Homo sapiens: one gene and its partner. The protein of the gene in region 2 purifies or fractionates together with the protein of the main gene of each other region. This does not show direct contact. Each region holds a gene or a part of one and is shown on either strand. Other genes may lie near its edges.

The links.
Region 1: the proteins of OVGP1 (region 2) and PEX6 purify together in Homo sapiens (affinity purification with mass spectrometry; one large-scale study listed by BioGRID and IntAct). This does not show direct contact.

What each region holds. Positions count from the first base shown.
Region 1 is NC_000006.12:42,968,908-42,972,928, forward strand, and holds part of PEX6 (peroxisome biogenesis factor 6), read right to left. Parts: intron 1,081-4,021; coding exon 978-1,080; intron 895-977; coding exon 761-894; intron 79-760; coding exon 1-78. UniProt on the Homo sapiens protein: Component of the PEX1-PEX6 AAA ATPase complex, a protein dislocase complex that mediates the ATP-dependent extraction of the PEX5 receptor from peroxisomal membranes, an essential step for PEX5 recycling.
Region 2 is NC_000001.11:111,424,936-111,428,925, reverse strand, and holds the start of OVGP1 (oviduct-specific glycoprotein precursor), read left to right. Parts: upstream 1-1,190; 5' UTR 1,191-1,204; coding exon 1,205-1,229; intron 1,230-1,834; coding exon 1,835-1,864; intron 1,865-2,284; coding exon 2,285-2,489; intron 2,490-3,486; coding exon 3,487-3,543; intron 3,544-3,990. UniProt on the Homo sapiens protein: Binds to oocyte zona pellucida in vivo. May play a role in the fertilization process and/or early embryonic development.

The DNA of each region.
Region 1 (4,021 bases), on a different chromosome or scaffold from region 2:
GCAGCAACTACTGTGGTCTTCCCACAGCCTGGGGGGCCCCGTAGAAGGACACTGCTAGTTCCTGTCAGCAGGGCACCCCTGCAACCAGAGAACAGACATTCGTCTCCTTCATTTTGCCCAAACATTAGAGTCCCCAGTAACACAAGATCCCTTAGATCTAGAAAGCAGATACCCTGTTTTTCTCTCCTTGAGCCTCCCTGACCCCAGGACAGGGCTGTCCCCATGTAGTGAGGCTGTGTCTCCCACACCACCTGCGGTGCTCTGGCCGGGGCATCCAGCATATCCAACAGCCAAAGACTAATTAATTCCCTTTGGCATTGCTGTGCTGCCAATAAAACCTCAACGTTATGACTGGTCTGAATGGTATTGAGAGACATTGTGGTGGCACTGAGGTGGGGATCTGCGTCCACACCTGGGCCACTGGTATGAGGAGTTGTGTCCTTCAGGGCCAGGGCAGTAAAGTGCAGGATGGCCAGTGAGCTCCCCAAGGGGAAGGGCAGTCTCAGAAACAGATGCCCCTGCTGGAGATTCTTCCTCCAGAGCCAGCCCTGGAGGACAGAGGTTATCCCAGGAAAGGAGCCTGGGAATTGGCTTACAGAAAGGAGTGGCCTGGTGGCCTTGTGTAGGACATACTGGTTTGAGGAAGGTCCTCCCAATCCCACTCTGGCCAGTTCATTAGGAACTACCCATCTGGCTGCTGCTCCTCCAGGGATGTTCTAAGCAGGCTTTTCTCACACCCTGGGGTGATGACCTCACTCACCCTGGCTGGAGGCGAGGCTTCAGGACAGCACAGAGTTCAGACACCAAGGCCTCCAGGCCTGGAGGAGACAAACTGCTCCAGAGAGTGGATTCCTCTGAAGGGAGCCATGGAACAGGGCTCAGGGTAGAACCCACCTGTGAAAGGTAATAAAAAGCTTTCGTTTCTAAAAATCGTTTCTACCCCCTGCGCTGGTCTACACCCATCCTTGGGGCCTCACCATGTACAAGGAGGTATGGGTGGTGTCGGCCAAGTAGGCACTGGCTGGTCCATCTGGAGCTTCCCCAACTGTTTTCTTCACTTTAAAAAACATTTCCCGCCACCTGCAGGAAAAAGGCCCAATGAACCCCAGATCCAGAGTCCAAAAACCCCCCTCCTCAAGGACAAGGTTTCTCAATCACAGAGGACAAACAAAAGCACCACAAGAGCGTGTCCCGAGTCATGGTGGGGAAAAGGAATGCAGATGGACTTTCTCATCTTCCTGACAGACCATACACACCTTGAGGGCAAGAGCTATGCCTGTCCCTCTGCATCCCCCATGACAGCCATGAGAGCTCTGAGGGGGTGTGTTTCTCCAGGCATGTGGCCTACCCACCCACACCAATGGGAGAAGCTGCTGCTGCACTAAGCAGTGGATCATCTGATTACTTCTACTGGCTTCGGTCTCCCCCTCAAATACACAGCCATCCAGGCCCCAAAAACCCTAGGGGGAAGGGTCCCTTGGCTCTTACTCAATAATCCACAAAATCTCATTGCAGGCGGAGTCCTTAATAATGCCATCTGATGAATAATGGTTCTGTATTCTGGCTGCACATTGGAATTATCTGTGTAACTTTAAAAACTAAACATTTCTCACATATTATATGATTCTATTCAGCAGATCAGCAGTTGCCATTGCCTATGAGGGAAGCTACAGGGAATGACTGCTAATGGGTGCAGAGTTTCTTTTTGAGATGTTGAAAATGTTCTGGAATGAAACAGTGATGTTGGCTGTACAACCTTATGAATAAAAAAATTGAATTGTATACTTTAAAAGTATGGTTTTATGGTGTGTGAATTTTATGTTTTTAAAATTAACCTTTCTCCTTCCTTTGTGAAGGAAAAAAAGCACAGGCTCCAGTCTCACCCTGATTCTGCCCCAATAGATCTGGGGTGGGGCTTAGGCACCTGTATTTTTTGAAAGCTTCCCCAGCAATTCTGATGCATAACCAGGGCTGCGCAGTAGTTGGCGAGTGTCATAGTGAGTTAGGGTTATTCAACCTACTAACGGGGAATAGGATGGGTAGCAGGAACAGCTACTAACCCAATTTTCCAGATAAAGAAATCATGAACTACTTCCCTCTTTAATCCTCAGGCAGCAAGGCAATGACAGAGTCAGGCTATAACCTAGTCCTCTTTAAGGTCCAATCAGGCTGCAAATTCCTCTGCTCACACTGCCCCACAGTCTCAAAGCTGCTCTCTCTAGCAGCAAAGGGGTGTGAGAGTGCAGCAAGGTGGAGGGGAAGCATACCAGGTTAGTATTATGAAACTCTTCTAAGTACTACAGTAAACCTGGAACATCAGGAAGCCTGAATCTGCCTATAATTAATTATAAATAGGTGACAGTGGGCCTCTAACCTAGGATCTCGATCAAGCTCAACAGCTGAGTCATGGTGTGTATGACTCACCATGGAAGCCCTGCATAGGAATGAGATGGGGGACAGCACTGTGGCATAGGGAGAGACCACCTTCTTCAGTGGAGGGTGGTTGGACCACCTCAGTGAATAGAAAGGCCAGAGCTCTGGAACCTATGTGGACACTGCTAAGGAACACTGAGCTGTGCTCCAGCCAGCCAGATAGGTGATAGTGGAGCTGGCTCCCATGCAGCCTGGTTTGGGGAAGTGGAGCACCAGGGACAGGATGAAGAGGCTACACCAACAGTGGAATTCCTTTCCAGGGCTCACAGGAACTTCTGCAGGGCTTCCCTTCTCAAGCCCAGTGCAGCTTAAAACGCTCATCTGTATCTGTCCTTGGACCCATTGGGCCACTTACTCCAACCCTGCTTTCCTTGCGGGGAAAAGAACTATGTGCTCGGCACTCAGGAGGAAAGCAGGGTTCTACAGAGTTGAGACAATAGAAGTTCAGGAACAGAACTGGCTTGCCAGCCTGTCTCATGAGGTTCTAGTGCCTATTTTCCTTTGAAAGTACAAAGAGTGGGCATTCTGTAGTTTTCCTACTGAAAGCTAGCTCAAAGACGTTTGCTAAATTTATGATAGGAGAGAGAGGTGGGAAGTGACTGCTAAGTGCCAGCCTGGCATTTTCCACCAGACTCGTGGACTTAATCTGGAAAACCTCGAAGAGGTGACATGGAGCCTAAATGGGGTTCCACAGAGCACCACCACCCTGAGACTGGGGGTACTGAGCACTGGCCAGAACCAAGCACTGGATATTGACCAGGGATGAACATCAGGCACTCCAAACAAGGACTGTCTCTCCTGGCAGAGGACCCAGGCTGGCTATGCCACAGACCTTGGACATGAAGGCTCTTATGTATGAGTTAGTGCATCTATCAGCTGTGCTCTCCTTCTAGTAAACTGCTGCAGGAAATGAGTCCAGAATACAGGGAATGCTGGGATACAGAGCTATACATTTTCCTCCCTACACATAAGGCTAAAGCAGTGTCTCAATTCTTTGCCTCACCATTTTACATGGAACCTCTGTGGTCAGAGTCAACAAGAGGAGAAAAGCTGGATTCCTTATTTTGGGTTCTTGGCTCGGTTATGCTCTATTTCTCATTCTCTGTTGATAGGACAGGGTAGCCCTCTCAAAAACAATAGAAATCCCTGGCTGGGTGCGGTGGCTCACGCCTGTAATCCCAGCACTTTGGGAGGCCGAGGCGGGCGGATCACAAGGTCAGGAGATCGAGACCATCCTGGTTAACACGGTGAAACCCAATCTCTACTAAAAATACAAAAAATTAGCCGGGCGTGGTGGTGGGCACCTGTAGTCCCAGCTACTTGGGAGGCTGAGGCAGGAGAATGGCATGAACCCGGGAGGCGGAGCTTGCAGTGAGCCAAGATTGCGCCACTGCACTCCAGCCTGGGCAACAAAGCAAGACTCTGTCTCAAAAAAAAAAAAAAAAAAAGAGAAATCCCTCTCCTGTTTTCAGAGATAGGATTGAGAAGTAGTTTGTGCACACTCCGTAGTTAAGGCAGAAATCAGAGCCTGTATATCCTTACGTTGAGATATGGATGGTATGGCCCAAGTCTTGGTCCAAATAACACG
Region 2 (3,990 bases):
GGTGGGCATAAGGTCCAAGACCCTCTGTAGCAGAGAAAGAAAACTGATGAATCATAAAAGCATCTGGCTTGCAGTCTGGTAATAAAAACGGTATATATATATATATATATATATATATATATATATATATATATATTTTATCTTTCATACTCCTGTTGTTGCATTTTTAAAAAACTGGCTCTTAGATGTCCAGAATTGTATCCATCATATTCTTGAGGTTCATGACACATCCTCACAATTGGCTCATATACTGACTCAAATATTGTTGACTCATAAAAATTCAGGTTTTGCCTTCTCCTGAGAAACTGAAGGATCCAGCAACACTGGGTCTGTTTCCCTGCAGGGAAACCATTAGCAGCTGCTCAGAGTGCTGTCCCTCTTTATACTGATCTCTGTTGTCTCCTGACCAAGAGGCTTCATGTCAGTTGATGTACATCATTGGGCATGAACTGTTACTTTTCTAATAAAATAGAGATAGCTGTTTTATTGCATCTACACCATCCATTTACATTACCTGCCTGGCAAGCGTCATCTGAGTTTGAGAACTCTGCTCTGCTGGGCAACCCTTTTGACATCCCTAATAATAGCTACCATTCACTGAGCCCTTATTATATGCGAGCACGAAACTAACAATTTTTGACCCATTATCTCTTTGATCTCTATAAAGCTCTATGAGGTAAGTCTGAGCTGTCATCTCCATTTTACAAGCATGGAAACTGACCTCACAGAGGCAGGTAATTTGTGCAAGATTACAAAACTTCTAAGTGGTGACACTGAGATTCAAACTTTGAATTCAAACCTTGGATTCAAAGCCTAAATCCAAAGCTATGGTTTAAACTTTTTTTAAAAATTACGCTGCTTCCCAGCCAATAATCTTTTAATAATAGAATTGCTGCTACCATATGGGGTTTCTCCCCCATATTCAGTCCCTGTGGTACTGAATACCAGGAAGACCCTCTTCCTGGTATTCAGTGCCAACCTGGTGCTGTTGCTTTGTTGGAGAGGGAGGCCAGGTCGTTCTGGGGTCACTGTGACTCTCATAAATTACTGATCCTGGCACTGGGGTGTGTGTGTGTGTGTGTGTGTGTGTGTGTGTGTGTGTGTGTGTGTGTGTGTATGTGTAGCTGGGCTGTCCCAGCGCTATCCACAGGGAAGCTCCTATAAAGGGCTGCATCTCTGGACTCACAGCTATCAGACCATTGAGATGTGGAAGCTGTTGCTGTGGGTTGGTGAGTGTGGCAGGTCCCAGCAGTGTCACTCAGTCCAGGAAGTGCCAGGCTTTATGAGTTCGTCATCTCTCTGGTGCCTGAGAGAGCAGCCTGAGACTCAGGGAAGCCTAGATTAGGTAGAGATGGGATGGGCCATAGTTAATGGTCAGAGGTCAGAGGGACCCAGGGAGAAGTGGTCAGAGCAGTGGTTCTCAAACCTGGTGGCCCATTAGAAATTTTAAATGCCTGAGTTCCACCTTGGACCAGTTCTGTTAGAATCTCTGCATGACCAGCCAGGATATCAGTACTTCTTAATTTGCAGCCAGGGTTCAGAACCACTGGCCTCGAGCTTTTTCTGGGACTTCTAACACTTGTCATTGTCCCTGGGCAAAGCATGAGCATATACACATGTTTATCAAAAAGAAAAGGAACTTATATCTAGCTCCACTGGTCCAACTTTAGAAACTAGGAAACGAGTAAATGGTGTGTGTGTCCCCATTTGTGTGTCTGCATCTGCATAAGGTGGTGTGTTGGTGGGCACCCTTGCTAATCAGAGGGTGTGCTGTGCCATACCACTCTGGTGAGGGTATGAATCTCTGTGTGACTCCTTCCTTTGTTTCTCACAGGGCTGGTTCTTGTGCTGAAACACCACGATGGTAAGGAAACTGTGTTTTCCCTTCCAGAGCCAGGGAGAGTCTCTGGCTGAGAAGTCCTCCACATTGAGTGTCCCCTGCAGCCCACCTTGCCCTGGCTTCTCTGACAGGGATTATTGATCCAACACAGTTTCTCAGAGGATTTTTGGTCACCTGCTGTTTGTGTCGCTGACTGTGTGCCTTGGTCCAGACTTGAGAATCTGTTCTGACCAGGATTTCACAAGGCATTGTTTTCTTCCTGAGACCTCAGCAGTGGGGGAGGAATAGAACCTCAGTGTAGTTCTGAGGTGTACTTCAGGGCCAGGGAGAGAGGATGTGAAAATGTGGCCTGGTCTCTTGGGCTGCGTTCACATTGCTTTCTGGAAGCTGAGCTCCATCCCCTCCCTTGGTTTTTGCCAACTAATGTGTGCTCTCCCTTACCAGGTGCTGCCCATAAACTCGTGTGTTATTTCACCAACTGGGCACACAGTCGGCCAGGCCCTGCCTCGATCTTGCCCCATGACCTGGACCCCTTTCTCTGCACCCACCTGATATTTGCCTTTGCCTCAATGAACAACAATCAGATTGTTGCTAAGGATCTCCAGGATGAGAAAATTCTCTACCCAGAGTTCAACAAACTAAAGGAGAGGTGTGTTCATATTGGATGTGGGGGTTGTATTTTCAGATTTCACAGGTATAAGATAACAGTCTATTTCTCCTGTTACTCTTCAACTTTCTTCTATTTCTTCCAGTCCTACCTTCCTCTCAAATAGGGGTCCAGAGCACCCCCAACTTGAGAACTCCTTGTCACAGACACCTTGAGCTCTTTCCTGCCTCCTTACTTTTGTAGTTGCTGTTGTCTCTGCCTGGAATGTGCTTCTCTCTCTTCTCTGCCTGGCAAAACCCAACTCAGCCTTTGAACCTAGTTGTGAGGATTTTAGTTATTAATGCTGTTAAAGTGGGCTTACACATCCCAAATGCTCAACAAATGCTCATGTTTTTATTACCGTTTGTTACCGGTGAGCTACTCCAGGGAAGGGGCAGTGTCTGCTGTGTTGTTGTATCCCCAGTGGCTAGGTCAGTGTCTCACACAGGGTTGGTGCTCAGTAAGTGTTTGCTTACATTTTCCTCTCTCCGGAACTCCTGGGATCTCTCTGTGCCCAAAGGAAGGCTTGTTACTGCATTAATGGTTATAGATGGGCAGAGTAAAAGTTCTATGCCACTAGATTATAAACTCCCTGAAAGTGGGGAGCTTATCTGTGTTGTTCTTTGTTCTAAAGTGCCTAAAGCAGTAAATGGCACATAGACATTGCTCAATAAATATTTGTTGAATAGGAAAAAGAGAAACATTTTAGACTGCTCTTTTTTTGGAAGCATCATAGGGACATGCGCGAGTTTGGCAGACTTTGTGCAGCCTTGGAGTTGTTGGGCTGTGATGGCCCTTGGGTTGATTGTTCTCTCTGTCTTTCCTCCTCTCTCCTGTGCTCATCATCTCTCTCCTTCTATCACCTTCCCCCTTTTCCTTTCCTTACCTCCCATCTCTCCTGTTTCCTGTTTTCTTCCAATGAGCAAAATAAAAGAATGTGGCAGCAGCTGCCCACCGGAGTGAAGAACCCAGCTCATCAACCCTCTCTCTCACATCATAGGAACAGAGAGCTGAAAACACTACTGTCCATCGGCGGGTGGAACTTTGGCACCTCAAGGTGAGACTTTGCTGTTATTCTCTTCTCCCTGGGAGGGTGGAGCAGGCTGGTTAGACGTGAAGACAGAGGGGGAAGGCAGCTTGGCCATGCGGACAGCAAAGCTAGCGCAAATACTTCCCCAACTCATGAATCTTAGACCCCTGCACTCAAGGGATATCCTGGCCTCTTCTCCATGGTGGGTCAGGGGAGACAAGGAAGTTCTAGCAGGTGGTGAGAAAGAGGCTGGGGGAAAATTAGGGACAAAATGAGGCACTCATAATTGTTTCCTCAACCTTTCATAAGAGGCAAGGGTTTTGTCTCCAAGGGGAGGAATCAGGTGCAGGATGAGAATAACTCCCAAACCTCACAGGTTTCTTCACTTTATTAGTGGATCCAGGGATATCAACCTCAAAGGGTTGGAACAGAGGAAAGGAAATAACAAAATGCTAAGCTTAGTGCTGGGACATA